Homo sapiens: one gene and its partner. The protein of the gene in region 1 interacts with the protein of each later gene in a biochemical or structural test. Each region holds a gene or a part of one and is shown on either strand. Other genes may lie near its edges.

What was found.
Region 2: the proteins of MXD4 (region 1) and SMC3 form a complex in vitro, tested with the Homo sapiens proteins (one study listed by BioGRID).

The regions. Positions count from the first base shown.
Region 1 is NC_000004.12:2,246,835-2,252,298, forward strand, and holds the end of MXD4 (max dimerization protein 4), read right to left. Parts: intron 4,413-5,464; coding exon 4,250-4,412; intron 3,868-4,249; coding exon 3,710-3,867; 3' UTR 598-3,709; downstream 1-597. UniProt on the Homo sapiens protein: Transcriptional repressor. Binds with MAX to form a sequence-specific DNA-binding protein complex which recognizes the core sequence 5'-CAC[GA]TG-3'.
Region 2 is NC_000010.11:110,570,557-110,577,842, forward strand, and holds part of SMC3 (structural maintenance of chromosomes protein 3), read left to right. Parts: intron 1-3,150; coding exon 3,151-3,189; intron 3,190-4,779; coding exon 4,780-4,847; intron 4,848-5,803; exon of another isoform or gene 5,804-5,905; intron 5,906-6,864; coding exon 6,865-6,936; intron 6,937-7,278; coding exon 7,279-7,286. UniProt on the Homo sapiens protein: Central component of cohesin, a complex required for chromosome cohesion during the cell cycle. The cohesin complex may form a large proteinaceous ring within which sister chromatids can be trapped.

The DNA of each region.
Region 1 (5,464 bases):
ACGACAGGAGCCTGTGTCTCCGTGGTCACCACCAGCACAAGGGGACAGCTGGCTACACCATCTCGCTTCACCTCAGCACGGCAGGTCCCCATGACAGGAAGCAGAAGCCGTGCCCAGGTAGTTCTGGGAACAGGTACAGAGCGATTCTCACAGTGCAGCTCTGAGAGCCAGCAGCCTCTGTGCAGAGGGCTCCTGGCTGGCACGGAGCACCCCAGGGAGCGGGCTGTCCTCGGCCAGCAGGGCCCCAGCACAAGGGCCAGAGGCAAAGTCCCAGTGCCTCTGGGACAAGAGCAACAAGAGCATCCAGTTGGCCAACAGGCCCATGGGGGCGCCCACCTCAACCCCACCTTCACCCAGCTCCAGGCGCCACAGCATCCAGGGAGGCAGCTGTGACGGCGGGCCCGGTGTGGTTGGCGGCACGGGGTGCCGTGCTCCGTCAGGCCTCCCAGGAAAGAGGCTGTGGTAGGGCAACGAGGGCCACGGCCCGAAGGCCACATGGCGTGGTGCCATTGGGCCAGGCTTTCTGCTTGGAGGCCGAGGGCAGGGCGCGAAGCACGCTGACAGTGACAACCACAGAAAGAGCCGGAGCCAGCAGGGTGAGATATAAAAATCTGTATTTATATTACAATGACATAAGGACACAGCACGGCCCACACGGTGGACAGGTGGCCGGGGGCCCCTTTCCCCCTCTAGCGCACGCCCCCCTCACCGGCACCAGGCCCTCGTGTGGCCCCCGACTCTGGCACGGAACCTGCCCTAGTGCCCAACATGGACCTGGGGCCACCCTGCTGGCCGAGGGTCAGGGTCCTCTGTGCAGGCAGTGGGGAGGGGGTCCCAGGTTCCCTGACAGAGGGAGGCAGGGCACGGGGGAGCCTGCCTCACCCAGCGGACAGCACGGGCCGGGGCAGACAGAGCAGGGACCCTAGGGCCACAGACCGGTACAGGGTTCCACCACCCGGGGACACAGGCCCAAGCACCGTGCCACTAAGATGGGGTCTGCAGAGGCAAAGCCTTGCTGCAGCCTCTCCCACTCTGCGAGGATGGCGGGGGTCTGCTATGTGGTTTGCGGGGGTTATCCTGGTATGCGGGAGCTGCCTTCCAATAAGGCTGGGGAACCCAAGCCTGAGTCTGGGTGCTCAGTGGCCGAGAGCACTGGTGTGGGCTGGGAGGGCACACGCAGAGGCTCAGGAGCCCCGGGCTCTGTTCTGCTTCTGTCTGCTCTCTATAGACACGGTGATGGCCTCTTGGTCCCTGCAGCCTCCAGTGATGGCAGCCTGGGCCCCTGACAGGGAGCAGTGGGAGGTTGGAGCATGTGGTGACTCCTAGCACGGGCCCCCACCCAGTGGGCAACCCCTCACCCACCTGCTGATGGCAGGGAGGGGCAGCTGAACAGCACCCCGGGTGGCTGAGACTGCCTCCCAGTCCACGTGGGAACCACGGCCTCAAGAGCCACAGGCTGAGCTGCCGGGAGGGTGGGCTGAGGGGCCACCACTGGTCACCGGGTGGATTCTGCTGGTCAGAGATGAGAGCAGAAGCCCCTAGCTGCCTCAGGCACTGGAGGGTGGGGCAGGGAGCTGGTGCTTCAAGAATTGAGGGCAGGGACACGACCACCTCAGGGCCCTGCAGTGCTGGCTGGGGAAGCAAGCTTTTACACACGGCCCGCCTTGCTCGGAGGTGCCACGGTGTTTGAAATGAAGCCTGGGGGGACAGACTCAGGCAGGCAGGGGAAGCTCCTTTCTGGGCACCCCTGGACCCCAGTGGGGCCGGAAGGAGATGCAGACAGGCCTCCTCACAACCACCCGCAACGCGTTCGGATGCCCCTCAGCTCCAGGCACCATGCCCCCTACAGCCTGCAGGGCAGGTTCTGTGCCAGAGTTGTTTCCAGGGACCCCCTTCCGCCACAGTGGGCCCCCCATCCTGGGGCGTCTATGCGTACGACTGAAAATAGACACGAATTTTCCCCATGATATGGGAATTGGCTACAGATGTACCAGAGGCACGGCAGGCACTGCTATGGGCCAGCCCCAAGGACAGAGGACGTCAGGAAGGAAAGGCGGGTGCAAGCCTCCTGGTGCCAGGCCTGCACCACCCAGCGAGCACAGTCTTCATTGGCTGCCAGTGTCTGAAACCTGGAACCCTCGCCTAGGCCAGGAAGCAGGGGGCTCGAGTCAGGTGACAGGTGAGAATCCATCTCTCTAGTGAGCAAGCAGGCCCCTGCCAGCCACTGGGGAGGGCAACACTGGGGACCAGGTCACAGCCCCTCCGTGCCACCCACAGGGGCCTGGCTGCATCGCCTCCAGGAAGCCCTGGCTGCCGGGAGGGGCTGCCCACAGGAGATGGGAGGACAGCACTAGCTGGGCAGGCCTGGGGCACCCTGAGCCACGAGGGACATGCTGGTGGGAAGGGCAAGGCCTGACACAAGACACAAGGCACACTTTGACGACGTGACGGAGGGACAGGTCCCTGAGACGCTGGGTGGCTCCCACCCCTCAGCAAACAAGGACGCAACAACAGCTAGGAAAATAGAATACAAAAATCTGGTACAGGAAACAGAGGCGGCACACACGGACGTCCCTAGGCCGAGAGTCTTTAGGCTTTCTTCTTTTTAAAAATGGTTTTTTTTTTTTTTCTGGGAAAGCCTCTCTGCCAGCTGAAGCTGCCGCAGCAGAGCTCATGAGAAGCCCTTTCCTAAGGTGGCTCCAGGAGCCCTAACCGGGCTGCTGGGCAGTGCAGCATTTTACTTTTTTGCTTTTTGTTTAAAAAAGGGAGATGAGTAAGCCCCCGAGGACCCAGCGGCTGCAACTTAACCAGCCTCCAGTTCACCCCAGCCCCAGCCAGGAAGAGAAGCCCCTCTCCTGTGCAGACAGGCAGGACTACTGGGTGGGCGTGGGTGAGCAGGAGCTAGAGGGGGATCCAGGCACAGCCCAGGGGCTGTTTGCCAGATGACCCCTGAAGGCCATCATCCCCAGAACATGTGACCTCGGGACGCCCAGGTGTGTCTGCATGTGTGAGCATGTACATGAGTGGGTGTGTCTAGGTGCGTGCGCGTGTGCGTCTGACAGTCCTACCAGAGCAGACGCTGCCCAGCTCGGCGTGGGCTGGGCTGGCCTGCCTGGCCCCGAGAGCCCAGCCCTAGGTTCTGACACCTGCGAAGTGGGAAGGACCTTAACCACCCACCTGCCCCAGGTGCTCACCCAGTTCCCGCCCTTCACAGACCCCTTGTCCACGCCAGGAGCCTATGTGGACTGACAGGTAGGTGGACAGACGGACGGATGGACAGACAGCCTTGCCTTCCTTCCTTCCTCGGTCCACTCCTTTCTCCTGGGATCCAGGGTTGGGGTCTGAGCTCCCTGTGGTGGTCATTAAGCCCCTCACACGGCACCTGCCGAGGTTTGCAGCAATGACGTTTAATACTTCTGGAATGATTAGGAATCTGAGAACAGACCGTGGGCGGCTATGCTGACCAGGGCTCCGGATGTGGAAGCTGGGCCCTGCCTCCTTGCAGGGGACTCTGCCCAGCTGGAAGGGGCAGGCAGCTCGGCAGGCCCTGACCGGCAAGCGGGCAGTGCCAGGCAGCCCAGCAGCAGCTGGAGCTTCCAGAATGGCACAGCAGTGGGCCTGTGGAGAGGCTGGCGTCAACTGAAGGAGAACTGGAGGGCTGACACGCGTGGCTGGCGGGCAGGCAGGCCAAGGAGCAGAGGGCACGGGCCTACGAGAGGGCGGGGCGGCCCAGCCGCCGGCAGTGGGGCCCGAAGCCACTGTCGCCGCCGGTGCCACTCTGCAGGCTGTAGTGGTCGTCCGCGTCACTGCTGCTGCCAACACTGTCCAGCTCACCAGGGCCAAACTCCATGCCCTCTATGTCCACTTCTAGGGAGAATAGAGTGGGGATGGGGTCAGGCCACTCTGAGGGTGCCAGCCCATTTCTCCCTTTTCTGGAAGCAGAAGCTCTAGGCAGAGGGGCAGAAGTGCGGAGGGCGCTGTCTGGGCCCTGGGGCAGCAGACGCCAGGAGGGCTCTGGCTGAGAACCCGGCCTCAGAAGCACCAGTCCTCAGCGGGCCACACAGCCTCTGCATCCCACCCTCCCTGTCCAGTCCCTTCTGCGCTTAGTGACAAACACACACCCCAGTGCAGCAGGGAGCTGGGAGGGTTCTCCCCAGCCCCAGCACCAGGCACCTCCTCTCCACCCAGGGAGCTGCACCACTGCGCACCCGGAGGCCCAGGTGAGGCTGCCCCGCGCCCCACGCCCCACCTTGCTCTGAGTCGTCCGTGGAGACAGCAGAGCCCGTGCTATCTGTGCGCACGCGCTCCACGCTCTGCACCGACAGCTGCTCCAGGCGCCGCTTCAGGAAACGATGCTCCTGCTGCAGCTGCTCCTTGATGCTCAGTGCCCGGCGGTCCTGCTCCTCCAGTTTCTGGGGTCGAGGGGGGCTGTGAGCTCACAGCGGGAAGAGGAGTCCCCCCATCCCCCTGGCCAGGCACTGGGGCACCCAGGCCTGGGCCCGGGAGGTTCCCCATCCCTGCCAAGACCTAGCCAAGGCTACAGGCCACAGGGTGCCCAGTCTCTGCCAGCCCCACAGCCTGAGGTGGGTCCCTCCCTGCCCCAGCCAGGCGGTCACAGTCAGATGCCACCTCCCAGCCCTGTGGTTTCTGTCTACGGCCCAGCTCTAATACCCGCAGCCACCAGGCAGCCTTGGCCAAGTTGAGCCATGTGTGGCAGCGGGTCAGTGCTACCCAATCTTTGGCTGGCACCGTCTCCAGGACAGTCCTGCTTACAGCGGGTCTCCTCACACACTCCCAGCCCTGCCCGCCCCCATCGGGCTGTGGCCTATGCCATGCCTGTCCCTGCAACACCTGTGCCCTGCCCTCTCTAAACCTTCCTGTGGGCCCCACTGAGACACTGCTTGCTCTGTGAGGGCCCCCAGGGCTCTGGTTGTGCCCCTCTCAAAGCTCCTGACACCCCAGCCTGAAGGTGACCATGCCTATGCAGGCAGAAGAGGCCCTCAGAGCAGATAGAGATTTGCCCTGGTTGGTCCAAATGTCACAAGGCCCCCAAACCAACAGGGCTGTCAAAAGTCCTTTGGGGGGCGGTCCCAGGGAATGTCTCCCTGAGCCCAGACCCACTGCCAGCTCCCGCTGCCCCAACCCCACCCTGGCACCCCCATCAGGCTGCCTACTTTTAGTCTGCCTTCTGATGGCACCCAGGAAACCCTGGCCCCCTCTCTCCTTCCAGCAGCTGCCTCTTCACAGCCCAGGACCCCAGAGAGCAATCTGTCCCCCGACCTCCTCCTCTCCATCCCAGTCTATGCTGCGATGCGGCTTCTTATGCCATCAGCACCCAACAAACCCGACACAAGCCACGGAACAGCCTCGACCCCTTGGCAGCTCCTGTTGCTGCTCCTCCACCCTGGCAAAACCCACCAGGCCCCCGACACACACCCGCCAGATGGCTCCCCACCCATCTTCA
Region 2 (7,286 bases), on another chromosome or scaffold:
GAAAATCTTTAGAAATGTAGAAAAATAAGAATTATTAGATTTCTGTTTTCTTTAACTTGCACCTTAAAATAAGTACCTTAATATTTCATTTGTGTGATTTTATAAATGATCTGTAACTTACTAGCTAGAATGATTACATTTTGTCTATAAGGTCCATCAAATACCATTGTTTTAGCTGTTATCAGTTAGTTGTGTTACCTCTGTGATTGCAGCATTAGATTTGTTAATAGTCACTGTTACAAAGGAAAATGGTTTTGTTTAACTAAAACAAATGAACCCAAGATAACAGTACTGATTAAACATATTTTAAAACCAGACACGTTGTAAGACATAATGTAAGAAAGACCAAAAGTAGTTAGGTACTGAGATTTGCCTTAAAAATATCTGGTGAAAGCATACCACTTTGATTGATGAATGATGTTGACTATTAAAAAATATCTCTTGTACTGATGTTGGGTATATGCATCAAACATATACGTTTTTAGGGATTTTTTTCCCCCTAACCTTTAACAAAAGAAATACATGTTATAGAACATTATGGAAAAGCTAAAAGGAAGAAAATTAAGATAAACTATAATCCTTTTACTCAGAGATAACCATTCTTTGTTTTTTACTGCACACCATGATTCTTCAGAGATAACCATTCTTAATAATAACAGTCTATACTTGTGATTAGTCCTGGTTTCCTAGAAAACAGCACAGACAGGATTAGCTGCTAAGGCTTTGATGGGAGGTGCAGTTTGAGGGCAAGAATGAAGAGAAAAGCTGGTCATAGATTTCTAAAGAAGAGACAGGTGGTTTGCAGTCATGTTAAATAACTCACAGACTTTGTGGACCCACCATACCTTAGAAAGGTCAGATGATAGAGGAATGGATTTGGATTCTGACAAGGATTTGTTTGCAGGCACCTGTCTTTCATTGGTCAAAGTTTTCTACATCTGGCATTGATGCCTCCAAGCTTTTGGATTGTGGTGCTCTGGGAACTAACACCCGGAAGTAGTCAGGGAGTTATAGCCTCCTTTCCATGTTCACAATTCAGGAGTACCTGAATGTACTCCCAAGGTAGCTTGAATCTACCAGAGGTATTAGGAGACTGAGCTTTTCCATTGATTGGCAGCCAAGGCCTGGGTTGAGAAAGGTGAATCTGGGGCCACATATAAACTGTGTTTACCTCAGTACGTTTTTAGTCTTTGTATACATCTTTTTAATATATATTTAAATAAAAATGGGTTCATTTTTAAATAAAAATGGGTTCATTTTTAAATAAAAAATGGGTTCATCATATAACTTACTGGTAATCTGTTATTCTCCTTCAGGATAAATCTTGAAATATCTTTATTAAATATTCAGCATCCTTTAAAATTGCTATATAGTGTTCCACTCTAGCAGTAATTCTTAAAAGGAAATTCTTAAAATTTCAGTTATTTATAGATGGATTGTGGTTTGAAATATTTATTCATTTAATGATAAATTGTCATCTTAAACTTTTATTTAGAAATAGTTTCAAATTTACAGAAAAATTTCCCCAATAAGAACTGTTCAGAGACTACTCATAAACCCTTTACCTAGATTCACCTGTTGTTAACATTTTCCCCACTTGCTGTATCATTTCCACTTTTTACACACCTTTTTCCTTAAAGTTATTTACACCATGGTCCTTTACCTCTGACTTTAATGTGTACTTTCTAAGAGGAGGGATGTTCTCTTTCATAATCACAGTACAATTTACAACTTAAGTAAATTTAATACATAGTAATCTGTCCATTTTCCAGTTATGTTGACTGACCCAGAAGTGTTCTTGATAGCATTTTTCCCCCTCCAGTACAGGATCTAATTTAGGAGCAGGTATTGCATAGTTGTCATGCTTCTTTAGTCTCCTTTAATCTGGATCATTTCCACAGCCTTCCTTTGTCTTTTATAACATTGTTATTTTTGAGAATTAAGACATAAGTGATGTTGTGTCCCTCTCAGGATATCACATCTGGAGGCACATGAGGTCTGTCTGACTCTTATTGATGATATTACTTTTGATCACCCAGTCAAGGTCTAATGTTTCCACTGTGTAGGTATTATTTTTTCCCTTGCAGCTAATAAGTAATATAGGCAGATGCTTTTGGACCATGTAAATCTTGTGCTCCTTTTCAAACTTTGTGCCTGCATTTACCATCTGTTGATGACCCTTGCCTTTATTCTGACGGTCACAAAATGATTTTTCATTTCCAGCACTCCTTTCACATTTACAACTTGGCATTTGGTAATTCTCCTCCTTCCTTACCTACTTATTTATCTTTTTATTATTGGTATGGATGCATGGATTATTCCCCCCACCAATAATTTATAATTTATTTGGCCATTTTGATGCTCAGATTACCCCTAGTTTTAGCTACTGAAAGGCCCCTTCAAGCTGGCTCCTGTGTCTGTCATATGCGTTTTTTTAAAAAGTACATCCTTTCTGGCATGACATGAATGATCTTTTTGAGATTTACTTTGCATTAAAGGTGGTAACTTTGTGGTTAATTTGCTCAGGATATTTCTGGCTCAAGAGTGAGAAGACTGACATAGTTATTTATGAGTCTTAACACTGAAAATTTCACTAAACACACTTAAAAGGATTTGATACCCTTTTACGTATTGAATTGCTTATATTTGAATTTTGTTAGTCAAAAAGTACCTTAAAATTATTTATATTTTTGTGGTTCTGTGAGACTACACATGATAATATAGGGTTGATTTTAAACATGAGAACACTTTAAGGATTTAAAATGATTATTTTAGAACGTTAGCAATATATGAATCTTTAAATTGTTAAACATATATAGTTAAAATAGAATTATATATCCATTGTAATATGATATAAGAGCCAGGTAGTATATTTAGCTATTCCTATTCATTTTAAACTATTGGGTAAGAGCAAACGGATCAACTGTGAAATATCTTTAAAGAAAAAACTATTAGAAGTCTGTACAAAAATTGAATTTATTTGGTGATTATAGTTGTTTTATTGGTTTCTTTTGTTCACTGTTTAATTTCAGATGTTAAGATGTATTAGAAAATTGGATTTTAAAAATATTGAGTATTTTTAAAAAGGTAAACAGTTTTAATTTTATTGGTTTTTATGTAAAATAACTTGTACTTTTTGAAATTTTCCAGTGGGCAGAAATGGATCTGGAAAAAGTAACTTTTTTTATGGTAGGTGTTGCTTTTTGAATTGTAAATATATTAAGACCTGGGTATCTTAGGGTAGATTATTAAAATCATTAATTTTCTGAGGTTATGTATTCATGAAACCCAAGAAATACTTTATATGGGGTTGCAGCTTAGTGTAGAGGGTTTAGAGTATACAGATCTGAATTCTGCTTTATACCCAGTGGCTGATTAGCTGTGTGAGAGTGGGCAAAACACGTAGCCTCTCAAATTTTTCTTTTCACTTTAAAAATGGAGATGTTTGGATGTTTGCCCTGTCTACCTTAGATGGTTTGTAAGAATGGAATGCAATAGTATGTATGAAAATGCTTTTTAAACTTGAATGTAATATATAAATGTTATAAATGCATATTTTAAACGTATGTAAATGCAGTAGAATAGTTGATAGTATTGTTTTGGAAAATTGTTCATCTTTCTTATTTCACCTTTTTGAAAACGTTTTCTAAACCAATCATCTTTGTAAAGGATGAAGAGGTATAAAAAACTTGAAACTGAACAGACTGTTGTCACTTTGAAGATAGTAAATAGAGCTTCAAAAATTCTCTCTAAATTGCATTTAAGTGTAAATAGCAATGCGTCTGTTAACAAATCCTTTGAGGAGAAAAACATTTTAACAAAATTAGACAGTTAAGGAGTAGGTTGAAAAATTTGAACTTTTTAGTTGGGTAATGCTTGAGGGAAAGGGGCATTTAGTGGACTGGCTTAGTAAGAACAAAGGTTCTATCTCTTCTGTGCACACGAATCTGAAAGGCACTCTCTAGCCTGTATATCCTATTGTGGTTGTAATTTGGCAATGATGAGAGAATGGACTGAAGTGGAAGTATTTCAGAATCTCCAGGGCAGTGTGAAGTCTCCTCACCTCGACCTGTGTCCACAGCACACACATTAATGCTTATGCACGTACTTGCTGATGTGGGCACCCCCACCACCTCCACACACACACAGTGCCAGAGGTCTCTTGGGTGGACTGGGACAAGAACAGCTGAGTAAAGAGTTCCACTTCCTAGGCAGGGTGGTCCAGTTAGGTACTCTATACCGAAGTAGGAACGGCCCCTTCTTACAGAGCTCGGTATAGTATAAGAAGTGTAGTATAAGTTGGGCATCTCAAACATTTCCCTGTATTTCCTTAGTTTTATTTCTTTTGGTAAAGTATCCACTTAAGCATATTCTCAAAATACATCCTATTTTGTTAAAAAGGATTTTAACTCATATCATTTATGTCTAGTGGGGAAAAAAGCAAATACAGTGTTAACCTAATCCAGTCAGTGAACACTTTGAGCCAGAGGTATACCTTAGTTTTGCTTGTCTGTTTTCATGTATTTCGGTGGTTTCTCTTTATTTCCTTACCTTAAATGTTTCAATGAAAACTTCTCAGTATTTTTCTTATATCATTTCCTACCTGATTAGTCTGATGTGCAGGCACATTTTCTGCATTTCCTTTTGTCCATATGAAACAGATAATTTATTTGCATTGTCTATTACCAGACACACTATGTTCTATTGAGGTGTGGGAAGTTATAAATAAGTTATAAACACTTTTTTAGGGTATACTAATAGTTGTTTTTGTATTTCCAGCAATTCAGTTTGTTCTCAGTGATGAGTTTAGTCATCTTCGTCCAGAACAGCGGTTGGCTTTATTGCATGTGAGTGAGACTGCTTTAAGACATTATTGATATTACATATATTTTAAAAATAAATTTTCCATGCTGGTTAAAAAAGCATTTGTTCAAGTTTCAGATTCTTTGTGAACAAGACACAATCTTTCTCATAAGTGTGTTACTCTGCTGTGAAATTTAGCCTAACATATTAATGCCAGATAAAAGCCCAATTTTTATACAGTGGTTTAGGAGAAAATTATAGGATTTGCCTATAGATGGATATGTCCTCCATATAAATGTCTTAAAGGAGACATGATATATATCATAAGTGTTTTATTCTGCTGTGAAATTTAGCCTAACATGTTAATGCCAGATAAAGGCCTAATTTTTATGTGATGGTTAGGAGAAAATTATAGGATTTGCCTATAGGTGGGTATGTCCTCCATGTACATTTCTTTAAGGATGTGATCTGCAAAGGCTTAAGAAGCAGGTTTGCTGAGGAGAAAGAAGAGTTTGAGGTTGCAGATTAGGAACTTTAAGATGCAGAACCAAAAATTAATTGGGAACATAGAGAAACAACCATTGCAAACTAAACAACATACAAGTTGTTTGTTGTTTTAGCCATATTTGTACTTAGATAGTAAACATCATTTTCCAGTATGAAAAACAGTAGAGATGTTCTGCAACTTACAGCGGGGTTATGTCCTAATAAACCTATCATAAACTGAAAATACCATAAGTCAAAAATGGACATTAGCCTACAGTTGAGCAAAATGATCTAACACAAAAGTCTGTTTTATAATAAAGTGTTGAATCTGTCATATAATTTATTGAATACTATGCTGAAAGTAAAAAACAGTGATTTTATGGATACTCAAATTATGGTTTCTACTGAATGTAGACTGCTATCACGTTGTCATTCAGCCATTTGTTGAACCATCGTAAGTTGGGGACCACCTGTATATTTACAGTAATGTGAGTTAGGATATTTTATTAAGTGGGTCCTTTTGTAATGCATAAGCACGATGATTGGGTTTTCGTGTTCATGTGAGTCATGCCTCCCTCAAACCTTGTTAGGACATTGGCACATTACCAATGTGATGTGGAAAAAAATATGAGTAATGGACTAAAGTAATTTTAGGATAGAAAATCATGAAAGACTACAATAAAACGATTAATCCTTCTGATTTGAATATTGTTTATTAAAGACTAGAAAATGAAATTCCTCAACATGTCTTAACAGTGTTTCTCACACATAGGAAATTGTTTTGTTTAGCTCTTGTCTGTCTTTTCCCCTTGTTTAGTTTGAATTTGTAGCCCAGTAATCAGAATTGATTTCCTTTAGAAAAATTCTTTTTAGGTTTTTCAGATTGGCATTAAAATAATTAATAACCTCTTTGGTACAGTTCTTCATTGTATTTACTACATAGTTTCTATAATCTGGAAGGTATCTGGACTTGGTACCATAGTTTTTGTGTCATAGATTGGTTTAAATGTGACACATGTTAAATGTGTATATTTCTATAATAGATTTAAAACTGTAGAATGTCTCAATTTTTCTTAAAAAACAGACTTTTGGTAATTATCCCATGATTTATTAGGATTTCTTTGCAGCATTAAAATGAGACTGTAAGAGAAAAGCCTCATGGTGTATTAGATATTAGCAAATAGGTAGAGTTAAATGTCCCCAGTCTTGCAGTCTAATAAAGTGGTCTGTAGAATCATATTTAAGGATATCTAACTTTGACATGTCTTGCATAGCTCTTATTTTTTATTTAGAATCAAAAGCTATTTGGTTGAGAAGTTTTGTTGTCCTAATCTAACGTCTCTGCTGTTTTGGCAAGAGGGATATATACTATAACTCTGGGGATATCCCCAAAGTATGTATCCCTCTTGCCAAAAGAGCAGAGACGTTAGATTAGTGTGTGTGTGTATATATGAATCTAGCAGAAATTTTTCTCCATTGAATCAGACTTGTTATTATGCCCTAGACTTTAAGAATCCTTTAAAGGATATGAATATACAACTTAAATGGCAAATTTCTCACTTCTTTCATTTTTAGGAAGGTACTGGTCCTCGTGTTATTTCTGCTTTTGTGGAGATTATTTTTGATAATTCAGACAACCGGTTACCAGTAAGTAACTTTTTTTTTAAAGTAATGTTGAGAATTTAATTGGTTTAGCTGATTTTCTTCATACTTTGAAACTTTTTAAGCTTTTATAATTTGTTATAATTACAGTTTATATACTGATTTTATCTTAAAATGACAATGAATACTCTGTTAACAAATGGGAATGTACAAACTGTTGTGAAAAGTGTCTTGGTTAAGAGTATTGAGTATTTGTAGTATTATTTTTAGTGAGATAATTGAAATTTTAAAATAAATACTTATGGGCAAGGACTTTAAAATGACCTTATTTAAAAAGTTTTCTCCTTTACTATTAAATTAACTGTGGGCTTTTACATTTTTTCTTAGATCGATAA